4 linked regions of the Homo sapiens genome follow. The protein of the gene in region 3 purifies or fractionates together with the protein of the main gene of each other region. This does not show direct contact. Each region holds a gene or a part of one and is shown on either strand. Other genes may lie near its edges.

The links. Proteins that work in one complex are often made in the same cells at the same time.
Region 1: the proteins of SYN1 (region 3) and LUC7L3 purify together in Homo sapiens (affinity purification with mass spectrometry, with the first as the bait; one large-scale study listed by BioGRID). This does not show direct contact.
Region 2: the proteins of SYN1 (region 3) and SAP130 purify together in Homo sapiens (affinity purification with mass spectrometry, with the first as the bait; one large-scale study listed by BioGRID). This does not show direct contact.
Region 4: the proteins of SYN1 (region 3) and SNAP25 purify together in Homo sapiens (co-immunoprecipitation; one study listed by IntAct). This does not show direct contact.

The regions. Positions count from the first base shown.
Region 1 is NC_000017.11:50,752,715-50,756,719, reverse strand, and holds the end of LUC7L3 (luc7-like protein 3), read right to left. Parts: 3' UTR 501-4,005; downstream 1-500. UniProt on the Homo sapiens protein: Binds cAMP regulatory element DNA sequence. May play a role in RNA splicing.
Region 2 is NC_000002.12:128,014,560-128,019,005, forward strand, and holds part of SAP130 (histone deacetylase complex subunit SAP130), read right to left. Parts: intron 3,357-4,446; coding exon 3,121-3,356; intron 1,989-3,120; coding exon 1,830-1,988; intron 356-1,829; coding exon 244-355; intron 1-243. UniProt on the Homo sapiens protein: Acts as a transcriptional repressor. May function in the assembly and/or enzymatic activity of the mSin3A corepressor complex or in mediating interactions between the complex and other regulatory complexes.
Region 3 is NC_000023.11:47,574,041-47,579,432, forward strand, and holds part of SYN1 (synapsin-1), read right to left. Parts: intron 3,462-5,392; coding exon 3,399-3,461; intron 2,601-3,398; coding exon 2,458-2,600; intron 2,367-2,457; coding exon 2,292-2,366; intron 2,194-2,291; coding exon 2,091-2,193; intron 1,235-2,090; coding exon 1,088-1,234; intron 736-1,087; coding exon 648-735; intron 551-647; coding exon 1-550. UniProt on the Homo sapiens protein: Neuronal phosphoprotein that coats synaptic vesicles, and binds to the cytoskeleton. Acts as a regulator of synaptic vesicles trafficking, involved in the control of neurotransmitter release at the pre-synaptic terminal.
Region 4 is NC_000020.11:10,269,884-10,274,329, reverse strand, and holds part of SNAP25 (synaptosomal-associated protein 25), read right to left. Parts: intron 1-4,446.

The DNA.
Region 1 (4,005 bases), on a different chromosome or scaffold from region 3:
TTTTTTTTTTTTTTTTTTTTTTTTTTTGAGACGGAGTCTTGCTCTTGTCGCCGTTTCTAGCTTTTTAAGAGTTACAATTAAGACCTCAATTTGAAGACTGGGCGCGGTGGCTCATACCTGTAATCCCAGCACTTTGGGAGGCCAGGGTGGGCCTGATCATTTGAGGTCAGGAGTTTTGAGACCAGCCTGGACAACATGGTGAAACACTCTACTAAAAATACAAAAAAATGAGCCAGGTGTGGTGGTGCGAAGCTGTAATCCCAGCTACTTGGGAGGCTGAGGCACGAGAATGGCTTGAACCCAGGAGGCGAAAGATGCAGTGAGCTGAGCTCGTGCCACTGCACTCCAGCCTGGGTGACAAGACAGAGACCCTGTCTCAAACAAAATAAAACCTTAAATTGGGCACTCAAGAAACAGCATCTTTAAATTTGTCACTGACTGATGGTTAATTTTACGAAATACACTACAGCTTATATATTAGTAACTACCTACACCAAGACTTTTTTCCCATTCTTCTTTTTAAATTTTATTAAGAAATATCATACATACAAAAGCACATAAACATACAGATTAAAAAAGGAAATGCCCACAGGCTTCAGAAACAGACCCTCACCAGTTCTTCTGAAGACCCCTGTGCCCTCATGATCACCTCTCCCTCCATCAAAACGGCTAACATTAAATTTTGTCTTAATCGTTTCCTTTTATCATGTATTTGACAGCCTGTTTTTGACTTTCATTGAAATGGAACCATAGTGATGTATTCTTCTGTGACTTGCTTTTTTTGATCCTTCTATTGTTGAGTTTTGTCCATGTTCACATACACAGCTGCAGTTCAGTTTCACTTCTGTGGAATTCCACTGTTGGAATATACCACAGTATTTATCCAACACACTGTTGGTGGACACTTGGGATCTTCCCGGGTTTTTTCTTCTTTTCTTCCTATTACACACAAATGCTTAAATCCATCCCCTGGTACGCATGTGTAAGAGTTTCTCTAGGGTATGTATCCGGGAATGAATGGCTACGAGAGAGGTTATGGCACACCCACTTATACCAAATTGTTTCCCGTTTCCCAAAGTTGTTGTTTCTAAACATTCTTAAATCTGTTGACAAATGACCTATTTGGGATGGCTGAGGGGAAGAAATAGATCAGCTACAAAACTCTTGAATTTTTAAAATAGTAAATTCAAAATTCTGATACAACAATGAAAAATACATTTACTTCTCTGCTTTGGCTTACTTGAAATGTACTTTTTAAAACTACAGGTTCAACTTAAAAGTGCTCTCCTTTATCTCAAAATAAATGTTTCTAAATATTACCAGGTAAAAACAGCAAGACTCAGAACATACGGGTATACCGTCATATATTTTGAAAGATCTATACATATATGTTTATATTTCCTCCCACCTCCCATCTCCCCACAAAGAAAACAACTTGGAAGAATAACTGTTAACAGCAGCAAGCTCCTGCAGAGGAAAAACAGAGAAATAGGAGTAGTAGGAGACATAGATCACTGAACACTTTTTTTTTTTAACCATGGGCAACATTACAATTATAATACAAAATTTCAAAAGTAGACCTGGGGTTCTTTCACAAACAACTAAAAAATCCCTCAGGAAATCAAACTTGAAAACCAATCCTGCATGAAGTCCCATCCCACAGAATTGTATACATAATAACTTCAAGTGTTTTTTGTTTCATGCACATATCAGATGTTTAAAAACATATTCACATAGCCCATCTGCAATGCATTTTTAAAAACAGAATGGATGAGGGCTCAGAGAACTTCCACCATAAAAATTTTCAGTTCTTACAAGTCTGAAAACTTTAATCAGAAGGTGGCTGAGCTCAACCAATATGTGGTCCAAGTGTTCTCAGACCTTAGAAATAAGGTTGGTTATTTATCCTCTGTGACACTAACTATATTTAAGGAACCAGAATGCCTAAGGAGAGGGAGTAAAAATATCTGAGCTGAGCAATATGACTAGGTTATTATAAGCTCAAGATCAAGAAAAGGATGTTTCAACCCAAACTGAAAAATGAATGGACTGTGTTTGAAGGGGAAAAAAAAACGTTTTAACAAAAAGGAGCATGATATGTATTATCTCTACATTCCAGAGGAGAGGATGTCTTGAGCAGCAGACTGGTCGGTCCTCTTGAAAGGCTCAATGAAAATTAAACTATTGGACCAGTGCTAATATAGTTTGATGACCAACAAAAGTTTACCCAATTTGTTTTATACTAATGAACTGTTATTTAAGAGGTCTTTGTCTTTTAGAGATACATGCTGAATTATTTACAGATTAAATGGTGTGTCTGAGACTTGCTCGAAAATAATAGAAAACAGTGGATACAAATACAATCACTCATGAAGTATAAAAGTGGTCATGAGTCTTGTTGGTGATGAGTTAACAGAGGTTAATTATATTGTTCCTCTTTTGTGTATGTCTTTAAATTTCCAAAATAAAGTTTTTTTTTTTTTAAGACCAACTGATTGCAGATTCCAAACTTACCAAGCAATCTGATTGATTAAAACTGGTTTGCTCCCCTTAAAGACCTTCCAAAGAGAAAATACATATTCACCAACTAATAACTTTTTGGTCTGCATGGCAGAAATGTTTGTTTCTTCTAGTGAACTGGTCTCAATACTGGATTCTTGTGAGCTGGTTAGCAACAATCAGTTCCTCTTCAGTCACATCAATTTTGGGTGTAAAATTCAACTTCTACGTCTCTCTCCATAACTAAAGCCAGGCCTTAGTCATAGATGTCCTGGGGAGGCAGGTCCTCCTCCCACCACCCCCACATCCCAGGTAACTTCAATAGTTACAATATATCTAAGTGTCCATAGAGGAAGCCTTTTCATATGAACTCATTTATTATACTTCATTTAAGTTAGTTAGACGTTGATTCTAGATGAGGCAGAGCAGAACAAATCTGGTATTTTAGTAACTTCCTAGATTTTTTATTACTTAGGGACAGAATATGGTTTAAAAACTATCACTTTAAGTCCTTTGCTGCTACAACCACAATGCTGTCAAACTACACAAAGCAGTGCCTGGGAGCTATCTTTGTGTTTGTTAGATTTTACTTCCCATTTTATCTTAATCCTCATGTGAATTATCTCTTACAAATTCAGAGATAACCCATTCATCTATTGCTGCATCTCCAGGATCAGCTAGGGAGCCAGGAGGGCTCTGTCTCCACAGCATTTTTTCATACAGAGCCTCTAAAGTGGGGGCGGCTTCATTATTTTTCAAAGTTTGGTGGAAGAGATTTTAGTAAATTCTTTAACAATTCATTATGCCTATTAGAATGAACACAGTGGCTTAACAGGCACTGGACCATGAGGCAGAGACCTAGCAACTCCATAAACATGAAGCCACAGGACCCTCCCTGGATAAGTCATTTAACACACTGTTTCTTTACCTATAAACTGATAGCAGTATTTGCAAGTTATAAACCACAAGGAATTGCTATGATATATATGTATGTGTGTATATACGTAGCTGGAGAGAATACTTTTATACAGTCGAAGAAGCTGGCTATAGATAGAAACATGCTGCCGGTTTTCCTAGATGTGACACAAAAATAATCACTTAAGTGGGGGGAAAAAACCCTTGCCATATATACTACACACCCTATACACAAATACATTTATAAACTGACACAGCTGGGTTAATCTTGATACAGGACTTAACAAAAACTAGCTCTTGAATGCTTTTCTACATCATCCCATAGCTAGCCAGCTAAAGAGTGCTTGTCAGGATACTTGGAATTTTCTACTAAATGAATCTCTCAGGGATGTAAAAATATATTCTAGTTCACTGCACATCTTTGCTATTAAAAGCAAAATTCAAATTTATTCATAACCACCTAAAATTGAAGCACCATTATTTAAAACATTAGAAAGTCTATAAAAATTAGTCTTAAACAGAACAAATCAGATAAAACTGTACACCAACACCTCTAGTAATAGTGTAACTCTTGTATTTAAAACAGGGGAC
Region 2 (4,446 bases), on a different chromosome or scaffold from region 3:
TTCCTGGACTCAAGTGAACCTACCACCTCAGCCTCCCAAAGTGTTGGGTTTATAGACATGAACCGCAGCACCTGGCCTTTTTTTCTTTTTAAATAAAAGAGGTTTATTTGGTTCACGGTTCTGCAGACTGTTGTTCTGCAACTTTAACAAGCTGATTCTAGATACATTCTGTGTTACGTATTTTACCAAATGTATATCTACTACTACATTTTGAGAGTTTGAACAAAACTTGCAAGTCGTTACCTCGAGGTAAATGAGAAGCTCCAATGTGAAGAGGGGGCCCAGGAGCATTGCTGCGGATGATAGACATTTGCACATTTGTAGTCATGATGTGATGCAGGTTACTGGGATGGCCCTGAAAGAAAGAGGATAGAACGTTATTTTTACATGTTTGCTCTTAGCCATTGCCTCTAGGAAGTCACCTGCCTCCAAATGTGGGTCAGGTTGTTTTTTAGATAGTGAGTATCCCAAGAGAAAGGGCTAAGGACATTCAGCTTGAGCTACTTTTACATGCCATACCGTACAATGAACTGTGCTAACAGGCATGTGAGAAGTATGAGGACCCCACAACTGCTGCAGGCCCACATAATTACAGATAATATACTTCGATATCTACGTTTAGAAACTCTCATCTGCGATATTACCTTTCACACTTGTTTTCCCTGTTCTGGCCAAATGCTTATTTTTTTTCCCATTCTCACTATTTCCTTTACATACCACTGCATCCATCCATTCTTTAAGCTTTTTTGTTTCTAAGTAAATGTCAGTTGGTATCCAACAGGTGCTCCCTACCAGTTCTTCAGCTCAACCCTGAAATGTCCCTTACATTCTCCCAAACCACAGAGTTCAGGGCTTCTCAGCTAAGGGTTCTGGTACTTCTGAGAGTACTCAGCAGTATGACAAAAGGAAAAAACACAGTACACCTCTTTGGGATATAAATTTTTCTTGAAAATGTGAAGGGAAAGTTTTTAGATTTAGTTTTTTTCCCCAGGTAAAAAATGTAAAATATTTAATTAATCAGGTACACAGCAGAGTAGGATTGCAAAATTTCACAAAAAAACCTTAAAACAGAAGACTTCAGAATAAATGTTCGCAACTAAGGCTGGGTGCGGTGGCTCATGCCTGTAATCCCAGCACTTTGGGAGGCCGAGGCGGGCAGATCATTTGAGGTCAGGAGTTGGAGACCAGCCTGGCCAACATGGTGAAACCCCGTCTCTATTAAAATAAAAAAATTAGCTGGGGGTGGTGGTGCCCGCTTGTAATCCTAGCTACTCGGGAGGCTGAGGCAAGAGAATGGCTCGAACACGGGACGTGGACGTTGCTGTGAGCCAAGACTGCACCACTACACTCCAGCTTGGGTGACACCGTGAGATTCTGTCTCAAAAAAAAAAAAAAAAAAGTTTGGAACTAGAGAGCTGCTTGAGGTAACCTATCCCAAGAGATGCACATCTGCTCTCCTCAGAGAAACCACAGAGCAGCACTGCCTACCCCCGGAAGGCAGTTCTTGACGCTAAAACCAAACACGAACCGGACTCCGGACTCCTCAAGGACACGGACTGTTTTATCTAGATTTATATATCACACTAGGGTCGAATCGAGCATCTAGTAGCTGCTCAATAAATTCTAGCTAAATGACCACTATGGACACTGGCTTCTACTCCCTTTACAGTTATCCTTCTCTCTCAAACCTACTATCTTCACTTGCAGGTATCAGTGACTGTTTGATCTTTTTTTATTACCGTGACTAATGTACTGCTAGCATTCAATAAATCATGATCAACAGTTTGGCATTTCAGTTTGAAAATCAGCAAATTAAAAGGAAGAAAAACCTGTTGTCCACTGATTGTTGCCACAGGAATGGCTGAAGCTTGAGGGATGCTACTCTCCATGGTAACGGTAACCTGCCCTGGAACCTTGGGGGGAAGTGACAGGGTAGAAGGTGGAGCAGGAGCAATGGGACGGCTAGGCATGGTGGGCTTCGGGGGCGGCTGCAAACAGAAAACCACACAAAACATATCAATGGCCTCATACTGGTGATGCATTTCAATCCACAATTAAGAGTGCACAAATCGAACCTGGAAAGTGCCAGGAAAGATGCCGTAAGCTTTATACATTTTATCTATTATCATCACAGTGTTTCCACTGAAGTACTAGCATTTCTATTTCACAGATAAAGAAACATACAAAGCAAGGCTAACTGACTTGCTCAAAGCCACACACACAGTAAGAAGTAGAACTGGGAATAAAGCCCAGAGCTGTATGGCTCACAGCCCACACCCTTTCTTCTACATGATGCTGCCTCCCAAGTTTGGGTGGATTGAACAAAACTCCCAGTAACTGAAACACAACCCCAAGGTAATACACAGGCAATATTCTCAGAAACCCCCAAATTAACCAGTTATTAAAACAAACCTTAAAGAAGAGTGCCACTCCACTTGGTCCCATGGTACTGGGTTATCTGAACTTATAACATTACTGTCAGCTGGGCACAGTGGCTCACGCCTGTAATCCCAGCAATCTGGGAAGCTAAGGCGGGCAGACCACTTGAGGCCAGGAGTTTGAGACCAGCCTGGCCGACATGGTGAAACGCCATCTCTACTAAAAATACAAAAATTAGCCAGGCGTAGTGACGTGCGCCTGTAATACCAGCTACTTGGGAGGCTGAGGCTGCAGAACCGCTTGAACCTTGGAGGTGGAAGTTGCAGTGAGCCAAGATCGCACCACTGCACTCCAGCCTGGATGACAGAGAAAGACTCCGTCTCAAATAAAAACAGAAACAAAACATTAATGTCATTAAGCCCCCACTGCTAAATCTGACTGGCTTAAAAAAAAAAGAGGGTCCCTTCAAGATTGTATCTAACTTAACATGCCCATAAGTTGAATAATATCAGTATCAAAATGGATAACAGCAAAGATCCTATGATGCCAACTGCCCAGCAGCACAAGACAAGGCACTGCAGAAAATCAGGGCTGAGTTACAGAAAGGAGCTGAACTCATATGTCATAAAGAAAAAATGAAATGTGATCCTAAGATACAGCCTAAGATTTTATACAAATTGTTACAAACATTAGCCAGTCTCGAGCTCTGGTTCAGTGTGAAGTTTTAACCCTCTCCATTACCTTCATAAGTCCCTCCGAAAATGAAAGTGGCACTGCTGGCGTCAGGTGTGCTGGCGGGGCTGTCACTGCAACAGGTGTGGCTGATGCGACAGCATGGTGTGTCGACAACATCTGCACCTGTGGATAGGGCCTTACCACAACAGGCTCTTGCTTCTCCTCCCGGGACTGGAGGGAGCTGCTGGAACTCATGTGCTCCCTGGCACTGACTTCAGAATCTCGACCAGATTCATCATTGACTAGTAAAGACATTAAGAGTGAGACAGTATGTCACAGTCTCCCAGTGTAAGATAGCAGCACAGACAAGAGTGGTACCTGAAGTTAAATCTCAGGATTGACAAAGTGGCCATTTCCTTGTGATGTTTTCTTAACAAGGTCAATATGGGCACTGGATTCTCCTGATGGACATCAGACAAAAGAGCCACAACTGTGGAATATAGAATTTATTCTGGATATTGTAGCCTTATGAACAAACTACCTGAAAATCATCTAAAATGAGCTGAAATAGTTAAAAGTACAATACAGGATGTAAGACAATTTCATTTAAAACATCCTCTTAGAAAGTTATAAAAGCCTGACATTAAAAAGATATTTTATGCTGGCCAACATGGCAAAACCCTATCTCTACTAAAAATACAAAAAAAAAAAAAAAAAACAAACCAAAAACCAAAAACCACGTTTTTTTGTAATCCCAGCTACTTGGGAGGCTAAGGTGGGAGGATCACCTGAGCCCAAAAGGCAGAGGTTGCAGTGAGCCAAGATTCCGTCACTGCACTCTAGCCTGGGCGAGAGAGGAAGATTGTCTCCAAAAAAAAAAAAAAAAAAAAAAAGGATGGCTGGTGCAGTGGCTTGCACCTGCAATCCTAGCATTTTGAGAGGCCAAGGCAAACAGATCCCTTGAACCCAGGAGTTCAAGACCAGCCTTGGCAACACAGTAAGACTCCATCTCTGCAAAAAATTTTAAAATTAAATGGGCATGGTGGCATGCACCCGTAATCCCAGCTATATTGGAGGCAGAGGGAGGAGGATCACTTAACCCTGGGAGGTCAAGGCTGCAGTGAGCCAAGCCATGATTGTGCCACTGCACTCCAGCTTGGATGACACAGTGAGACTTTGTCTCAAAAAAAAAAAAAAAAGGTGGTTGGGGGCTGAGCACAGCCTGTAATCCTAGCACTTTGGGAAACCAAGGCAGGTGGATCATTTGAAGTCAGGAGTTCCAGGCCAGCCTGACCAACGTGGTGAAACCCCGTCTCTACTAAAAATACAAAAAAATTAGCCGGGCGTGGTGGTACACACCTATAATCTCAGCTACTAGGGAAGATGAGGCAG
Region 3 (5,392 bases):
GCGGGTGGCGGCACGTCCTGGCTGGGTTTCTGGGCCAGCTGTGGTTTGGGACGTCCAGCGGGGCCCGGGCCGCTGGGCCGAGGCTGCTGCGTGGTGGGTGGCCCAGTGCGGGGCACGGGACCCGCCTGGCTGGCCTGGCGTGTGGGGCCGGCTGGGCCTGGGGGTTTCTGGGGCGGGCCCTGGCGCTGCTGCCCGCCCGGTGGGGCCCCAGAGGCCTTTGGCGGAGCCGGGCCAGAGACGGATGTCTGACGGGTAGCCTGTGGGGGGCCCGCCTGGCGCTGGGGAGACGGAGAGGCGGGCGGGCGGGCTGCTGGAGGCGCCCCGGGGCCTCCCGCCACTGGCCGGGATTGGCGGCCTTGACCCTGGGTCGGCGGCGCGGCCTGGGACGCGGGCTGCTGGGGCGCTGAGGTGGGACTTGGAAGGCGCTGGGGCAGGGGGCTGCCAGCTGGGGGTCCAAGGCCTGAAAGGTGCTGCTGGCCCTGCGGGGGCGGGCGCTGCTGCAATGGGGGTCCCTGGCGCTGGGGGCCTGGACCCGGCTGTGGAGGGCCGCCTGGGGGACAGAGGGAGAGAAAGAGCACACGTGAGAGTGAGCGGGTAAGAGATGGCGGGCTGAGGGAGGGGACTGCGACCGCCAGCCTCTCGCTTACCCTGTGGTGGGGGTCGCTGCTGAGCCGGGGGCCCTGCGGGCTGCTGGGAGGTCTGGCGGCCCAAGGGCAGGGCCCCTGGGGACGGAGTCTGCGGCAGAGGAATGGAGCAGGAGAGGTTAAAAATAGTTACCAGCCAGTGGAGCATCAGCCAGTGATGACACAGGTTCCCTGTGCGCTGGGTGTTGCCCCACTTGTGGCTGAGCTGAGGGTACTCTGGGTTGTGGGGTGGGGGACCTGTTCCCAGGGGCGGGGCAGGGAGGTGCTCAGGGAAGTCAGGGCAGCAGCTGCTTATCAATGTTTTAAACAATTGGCAATCGCAGCCACATGTGTGCAAAGGTGATGCTGTGAGCCTACAGATTATCAGCTTCATGGCACAGCATGACCCAGGGCCGGCCTCCCCACACTAGCTCAAGCCACTAGCTCAGCGCCAGGGGCCTGACCTGGCCATGGGAGCCCCTGCCAGGGGAGGCATCCCGCTGTCGCTGCCGGGGCAGGGCCTGAGCCATCTTGTTGACCACGAGCTCTACGATGAGCTGTTTGTCTTCATCCTGGTGGTCACCAATGAGCGGCATGGAGGAACCCACCACCTGGGGGAAGGAAAGGATCCGTGAGGGGAGAGGCAGGCCTCGCACCTGAGGCGGCAGTAACACCGTGCTTTCAGTTGGCCAAGGGCATGGCCGCCGCTGAGCCCCAGTGTCTGAGGCACTGATTGTGCACGGTGAGGAAGGCTTGTCTGTTCCAAGGTACCTTACAGCTTAGAAGGTGCTTCAGAGCAGGGCTCAGCAAATTAGGGCCCATGGGCCCAACCTGGCCGACCACCTGGTTCTGTATGACCCAGAGCTAAGGATGGGTCTTTAAATTTTGTAACAGTTGAAAAAAATCGAAAGATTTTATAACATGCGAAAATGGCATGAAATTTAAATTTCAATGTCCATAAACAAAGTTTTATTGGAACACAGCCACACTTATTTTTTTAACATATCGTCTATGGCTGCTTTTGCAGAGTTGAGTAGTTACGGCAGAGGCTACGTGGCCTACAAAGCCTAAAATATGTACCGTCTGCTCCTTTACAGAAAATGTTTGCCGATCCCTGCTTCACGGTTTTCTAGGTGCTTTGTCCTTTCCAAAATGCTTTGCTGTCGGTCCAGTTCGCAGAATACTTTAAAGGTTACTAAGTGCCTCGCCATTCACCAAGATGTCTCGATTCGCAGAGCACTAAACAATCTAATAAGGGTTTTGCTAGTCACCAGGGACGTGCAAGTTCAGTCTAGTGTTCTGCCATTGCAAGGGATGGCCCCTTCGAAAGTTCGTCAGGCACCTTACAGTGTACTAAGCACATTGCTGTTGGCTGAGGACCTCTGTGCCATGGAGTGCTTCAGTTTGCACTGCTGCTGCCTGGCATCTGTTCCTCCCTCTACCCCACCTACCCCTGGGTGCTCATACCTCAATGATGTGATCCCTTCCGTCCTTGCCATGTAGCGCTTCCACTGCGCAGATGTCCAGTCCCCCAAAAATCTCTGAGCACGTGTCCACCCACAGCTTGTATCTGCCAAGACAAAGGGTGGGGAAGCCTGTCAGTCTCTCACCTGAGCTGTCGTGCTCCCACCCCCGCTTCCCCTCACACCCTGAGTTCGGGCTGCCCACCTGTCAGACATGGCAATTTGCTCCAGCATCGCAGAGCCAGTATTGGTCTTCCAGTTCCCTGACACTGACGTCCTCCTGGGGGACAAGGGGACAGAAGCTCAGGGGTGCCTCAGCTGCATGAGGCAAGGCAGGGGACCCCTTCCAGGGCTTTGGTCTCTCCACTCACATGTAGGCCTTGTAGTTCTGCCCAATCTTCTGGACACGCACGTCATATTTGGCATCGATGAAGGGCTCGGCAGTGGCATACGTCTTGGTCAGTGCCACGACACTTGCGATGTCCTGGAAGTCATGCTGGTTGTCAACCTTGACCTGTGGAAGTGCGGGCAAGGATCAGGGCCTGGTCAGGATAGGGCAGCTGTGGGGAGTGGGGGTGCCTGGGGGAGCATGTATACATGACACACAGGTGAGGCGAGTACACAAAAATTAGGTGGACATGCCAAGGCGCTCAAGCAGGCACGATCATGGGTCTCCTGTTTTGTATGTGAGCACACAGGCACAAAGTTGGGTGTGTAGAACACTGAGCATACCAAAATGTATTGGATTGTCTACTTTAAATGGGTGAGTTGTAGGGTGTGTGAACTATCTCTCACTAAAGCTGTGAAAAAACTGTGTATGTACAATATACTAATATAGGCATCCAGACACAAAATCAATTGTACACACAACATGCTAAGATACAGAAACTCGGACACAAATTACAAGTCTACTTTCTACGTACACAGAGACAAAATCAGATGGATGTAAAGCACACAGGACCCCAAGACTTTGGAACATAAAAGATCACACCACATCATGTGTGTTCGGCACAGGCATGCATGTACACACAGACACGATGCTGGAGACAAGCAAAATAACAGGACACACAAAATTGGCTGAATGCAGGAGGAAAAAGGGGTCGATGAGGTCAGCTGAATGTGAGAAAACAAAAATCTATTAGGTTGGTGCAAAAGTAATTGTGGTTTTTACCATAAGAACTGGCAAAACCCGCAATTACTTTTGCACCAACCTGATAGATAACGACACCCCAGGAGACGCGATCACACAGAATGACTGGTGTGCATTGCACAAATACACATCTACCTATGCACAGCCCAGCCAGAGACTCACCTTGCCCATCCCAGAGTGTGCGTGCCCCATCTTCACAACCACGGGGTACGTTGTACTGCTGAGCTGGTGGGGAAAAGGCAGAGGAGACATGCTCAGGGCAGAAAGGGTGACCTCCAGGGGTGGGGCGGCACTGAGGGGATCCCAGCCAGTGGGAACTGCATTATGAGTCACTTCCCAGGACACACAGGTCAGAGACAGGCAGGCAGCAGCTGGGGGTCACACAGTGTCTCCACCTCCGGGCCCAGAATTGAACCCAGAGCCCTGTCTGTCTGTCCCTCACTCCACCCCACCAACAAGTTCCAGACGTCCCGCCCCTGCTTTCCCGGGCAGAGGCATGGTATGAGCGTGGGGGACTGTTCCAGTAAAAAGAAAGTTTGTTTTTACAGTGGATGGATGATAGTGAGGCAAGTGTGTGCCAGTGCGTGTGTGTGGGGGTGGGGGGGGTGGGGAGTGGTGGTGAGCATGTAGTGACTGAACCCCTCAGCCAAACCTTGTATGTAAGCCTCACCTGCACACATAAACTATTGAGAGGCATGAGCCCTTGGAACTCAGATGTACATCGCCAAACCCAGAGATGCCAGTGACATTGAGACTGACAGCCAACACAGGCTCAAAGCACATGAGCTCTGGAGCAGCACAGACACCCACACAGTCATTCAGCCAGCCAGGTGCCCATAGCGTGGGTCAGCAGCCAGCACTCCAGGGCAGCACACACTGGACACCCTTAGGCACACAATCAATACTTGGGCACACACCCAGGTTCCCTCCCCTCACCCAAACCCACATCACCATCAGGGGAACACACACAACACAAAAGATTACCCGTCCAATCAAGAGACACACAACTCCACAGGCACACTCCACAGAACCGGGCACATACTCAACACACAGGCACACATAAAACACCCCTAGGCAAATGCACAGCAAATAAGGCCCTACACAACACACAGAGGTGTATGCACTTCTAGGTATTCACATCACCACTGGGACCCGTAAGAGACCCACGCCACATTCCTGGGCATACAAAAAGTATATCTAGACACACACACAACATGCCTTGCCACATATACAATACAGAGAGGCTACACACAACCAGAGACACCCACAACTCAGTTTGCAGAAAACATTCCTGGGCACTCCCACCCCAACACACATACAGTCACACATTCAGGCGAGAGGGATACCTCAAGTCTCCCCCGCTCCTGGATGGGGTAGAGGAAACCAGGTTGGACGGCCCTAGGCTCCCCGCTCCCTCCACCCCCACCCCCACAGCACAGCTGCACAGTGCCCCTCTGGTGGCCCTCCCTCTCGCTGACAAGGTAGAGAGATGGCATTCCCGGAGGGGCTGCTGGGGCGGTGGTGGTTCCCAGTTCCCGACAGGCACAGGAAGCCCGCAGACTCAGGGTGACCGATTGACCTTAAGGCCTCCCTCTGCACACCCCCCCTTCCTCATTTCCCAAATGACTGGCGTCATTATGAGGTGGGCTGAGAGGCACGATGTTGGGACGGGGGTTTGGGGCATCTCTGGGCAGCGGGCCAGGGAAACGATGCCGAGGCGGATGCATACAGTACCACCCAGGTGTGCGCACAGCACACAGAAGTGCATAATGCACTCAGTTACATATGCAACCCAGATCCGCTTTGCCGAGGCTGGTAGACAACTCCCAGAAGTAACACACAAAACACACAGGCACATGCTCGACTCTTAGCAATGGACACACAACACACCAGAGAGCTGTGCGTACACACCCATACCTCCCCCAACAACCCTGAGGTTTCTAGGTGCCTCTTTTCGTTAACTGTCCTTGTTTTCTCTGGACTTGAGCCTGAACACAACGCTCTGTATATGTGTGTGTGCCCATACATGTGTGCATGCAGAGTGCTTTGAACTCTGACTCTGGGAGCTCCTGGAAAGCCCTAGGTCTGAATTTTGGCCTTTCTTCTTCCTAAGGCCATGAAGGACACAACCTCTCCCTGAGCCTCAGTTTCCCCAT
Region 4 (4,446 bases), on a different chromosome or scaffold from region 3:
TCAGTCATCATCAGAGGTTGCCAAAAGGGCTTGTGTGAGGGTGAGCTGCTATCACTCCAAAGAGGGTGGGTCCTTGGTCCTGAAAGGTGACCAGTCCATTTCTTGGCTACTCTCTTGAAATCCCACATGGTACAAATGACAGGTACAAGGACTGGGTCTATTCCGGAGAGAGCCCTCCTTCCTCCTTCCTTCTCAAATATTTATTGAGCACCTGTAATATGCCAGGCAGTGTTAGGCACTAGGGATACAGTGATGGACAAGATAGGCAAATTCCCTGCCTTTACAGAATTCAGTCTAATTGGGGAGATGCAAGCAAAAGAGGGAATTAGATGATTCAGGATGATGATAATTACACTAGGGGACATGTCTGGTATCATGGGTGCCCATGGGTTTGCAACAGGCCTTTCTGAGGAAGCCATGTCCCCAGGCCATCGAAGGGAAGGGGGCAAAGGGCCCGATGGGGTAGGTATCTGATAGAATGAAAAATTCTCTGTGAGTAGCACATTTGAAGAAGGCATGGGCTCTTGTCTTGTAGCGGAGATGGTCAACTGTGCACTTTAACCTCACTGTTGCATGGTAGAGCATGATCTCTGGGAAATGGCTGTGCAGCCAGGAATTACATTTCTAATTCCCATTGCAAGGAAGTGGTGCTCTGTGGCTAGAGACAGTCCATGAGTGGTAGTAGAACAAAGTGTGTCCCTGTCAGTCTAAGGCAGTTCAGAAGCAGGTATTCTCCTCCCTCTGTTTCTCCTTCTGCCAGAAATACAGTCTTAAAGGATGGTTAAGCCATGAGACCATGAGACAGAAGGAACTTGGGCCCTCCATATCCCTGCATGGAGAAAAATGACTCCTGGCCAGTAACACCTGAACTCTTACGTGAGCAAACAATATATTTCTATTATGCTATGGAAAATGTGAGGGTTGTTTTGTTATAGCAGCCTGTGTTACACTAACTAGTAAATGTCTGAAGAAACTTAAAATGAAACAGAAACATTGCATATGAGCATGATTTCCTAACCAAAAAACATATTTTTGTTTGTCTTTCTATTGAAAACCGAAGCTGGGAGAGGAAATTAGATTTGGGGCCTTGGGGCACTACCATGTTTATTATTATTATTATTTGCATGAGAATGAGAATCACTTTTCGGAAAAATAAAAATGAAAATTCTGTATGAAAAAAAAAATCAGGAACATACTCATTGGGAGGCAAGGGAACAAAAGTTCCCAGAGGCAGGTCCTAGATCTGATCCTGGGGGAGGAGGCTCTGCCATCTCACCCTCCAGGTCCACGATTCTATTGCTTTCTCAACAAGGATGGAATTTTAGTACATATTAATATCACTTTCCAAATTTATTGCTCTTGTGAAAAAGGAGAAATCATACTCTTTAGGGTTCTTAGAAGGAATCCTAAAGTGAAACTTCTTTGGAGATAACAGGTTTCACCGTTCTCTACCCAGTGATTGCCGGGCAAAGCAACAAATATGGAATCTGAGTAAAAAAAGAAATAACAAAACTTCAGGGTTGCCTTATTCTACCACTGGCATTAAACAAATAATGGAGTAAGTTTATGTGAGGTTAGCTTTATGGGCAGTCATTTTATAACTGACAGAGCATCTTACGATGAGCCTGCTAATTTTCGAATGCGTGTTCTGGCCACTAGAACATGTGCTCGTGAGATGATGTAGAGATGTGAACACTGTGTTTTATTTAAATACATGAGACTTTATTTCCATGTCTCCATTTTACAAATTAGGATCTAGAAAACAGACACTGGAAGGAATTTACACCAAGTCACTCCAGAATCTTAAGATGCACAAAAATGAAATTTTAGTATTCCCAAGTGACCGGGGATCTACCCTCCAGAATAAAGCAGTGGACCCGTGGGGAAGTTGAGTAGACTATGGACCATAGTTCAGTGGAGTGGGTGGATAAAGGCATTGATGTCAGAAAGACCCAGCTGGACCGCTGGCTCTGGCGCTCAGAAGCTGGGTGAGTCTGGGTAAGTTCATCACCATCTCTGAGCTTTAGTTTTCTCAACAGGACAAACAATGCCAATCTCATGGGGTTGTTGAGGGGAATAAATTACAGAAAAGTTCTGGCCAACATTTTTTGTAAAAAAGGATGTGGAGCTTAATATTCAGAAAGCCTCACTAATTCAGGACAGCCCTACACCCTTGGCTAAGAGTGGAACAAACCCGGTATTTGTTAATCAGCTTTCCTCTACTAACGGCTAGGCACAAGACATGTTGCTGTGGTGCTGAGCACCCATGGAAGCTTGAAACCAGGGAAACCAGCAGAGTGCCTGAGCCTCCAGTCTCCAAGCAGCACCTCTCACAGGAGTACCACGAGGAGACAAACAAGAGTGCCTTCTGGCCCCACGCTCCATCTTTATATTTTGCTGCTGGGTTCCTGGGGGGGAAATGTGTATCTTCGGCCTAAGCAAGCCATTGACCTTTCCTTTTCACAGGCCAGTTTATTAGAAGGCAGGGGTCCATGTGCTTTCAGACTTGTAGTGCTATTGCTCTGTCCCACTCCTTCAGGTCTATTTGCTGATGAATGTTTCTGTGCATGCTCTCTCTCTTCTCTCTCTCTCTCTCGCTCTCCCTCTCTCTCACACATACTCAAGTTTCCTGTGTTTCCTTGGCAATCTCCTCTCAAAGTTGTTATTCTCAGCATGTGAAGAACAGCTGTAGGGCGCCCTGGCTCCAAGCTGACAGCAGCCTATCCAGGCCTGGCTGATGGGCAGCTGGTGCGATGGCGGAGAAGCCATGTGGCAGATACCCTTGGTTTCATCACTTTCACGGTTCCCCCAGGAACTCCCACACCTTTGTCCTGCTCTAAAACATGGAGATACGTCTGTGATTTGGGAGGAGGGCTGATGAATCTGGTGGATCTCAAACACACAGCATTTCAAAGCTGAAAAAGCAATTCCCCCTCTCCTAATAAGAACGGCTGGAGAGTGGGCGCTGAGCGTACCTCCAGATCTTCTGTTGGGATGTTTACTGCTAGTGTTTAATAAATTGTTCCTATAAACCCCAAACTCATGCATGTTAGCATTCTAAAAGACAGCAGCTGAAGAGGCATAAGGATGTTTATTAATAGTAATTTCAGTAGCTGAAAGGACGTTAGTAGTGAAGTGGCATTTATGATCAAGGCAGCCTGCAATACATCCCTCATATTAGCACAATAAACTGCCATCTTGTGTGTTGCAGAGCAGGTAGAAAGAGGAAACTAGGAAGCAGAAGAAATTAGGAAGAAAAGCCACTCAAAACTATTCCCCGAGGCTCTGATTGTAAGACAAACTCCCAGTCTATTAAGAGCCTAACAGTATCTAATTAATTATCTCAAATCACCAGTGCTTATTAGCAAAGGGTCTGACCCCTAGTAAGGGTTCAATTCATGTTAACTGACATGGATGAACTGTTCTGACACTCCCATGTAGCATTCAGTGTTCCCAAATCAGCACTTTACAAGGTGTGGTCCAGGACAGAGCTTCTGAAACTTCCCCCAGAGTCAGAATATGCAGAAACCTTGTTAAAATGGATTGCTGGGCCCTACCCTCAGGGATTCTAATTCAGTTGGTCTGAAATGGGGTCACTGATTCTGCATTTCTTTCTTTCTTTTTTTTTTTTGAGACAGAGTTTCACTCTGTCACCTTGGCTGGAGTGCAGTGGTGCCATCTCAGCTCACTGCAACCTCTGCCTCCTGGTTCAAGTAATTCTGCTGCCTCAGCCTCCCAAGCAGCTGGGATTACAGGTGCATGCCACCACGCCCAGCTAATTTTTTGTATTTTTAGTAGAGATAGGGTTTCACCATGTTGGCCAGGCTGGTCTCGAACTCCTCACCTCAAGAGATCCACCTGCCTTGGCCTCCCAAAGTGCTGGTATTACAGGCGTGAGCCATCGTGGCCAGCTGATTCTGCATTTCCAGCCAGCCTTCAGGTGATGCTGAAGCTGCTGGTTCACAGAGCACACGTTGAGTAGCTCTGGTCTGTAGGACCTTCTCTCTTGGAATGTTCATGAGCATCACCAGGTGGGGTGGTGGGAGTCCTGTAGTTTTTTCTTCTTGCTGTTTTTGAGATAGAGTTTCGCTCTTGTTGCCCAGGCTGGAGTGCAATGGCATGATCTCGGCTCACCACAACCTCTGCCTCCCAGATTTCAAGCAATTCTCCTCCCTCGGCCTCCCAAGTAGCTGGGATTACAGGCATGCACCACCACGCCAGGCTAATTTTGTATTTTTAGTAGAGACGGGGTTTCTCCATGTTGGTCAGGCTGGTTTCGAACTCCTGACCTCAGGTGATCCGCCCGCCTCGGCCTCCCAAAGTGCTGGGATGACAGGCGTAAGCCACCGTGCCGGGCTGGAGTCCTATAGTTATATAGAGTGGGAAACAAGGGGCAGGCTACATTAACCAGGGGCTTTCGGGAAGTTAGGGCCCACGGGCCAAATC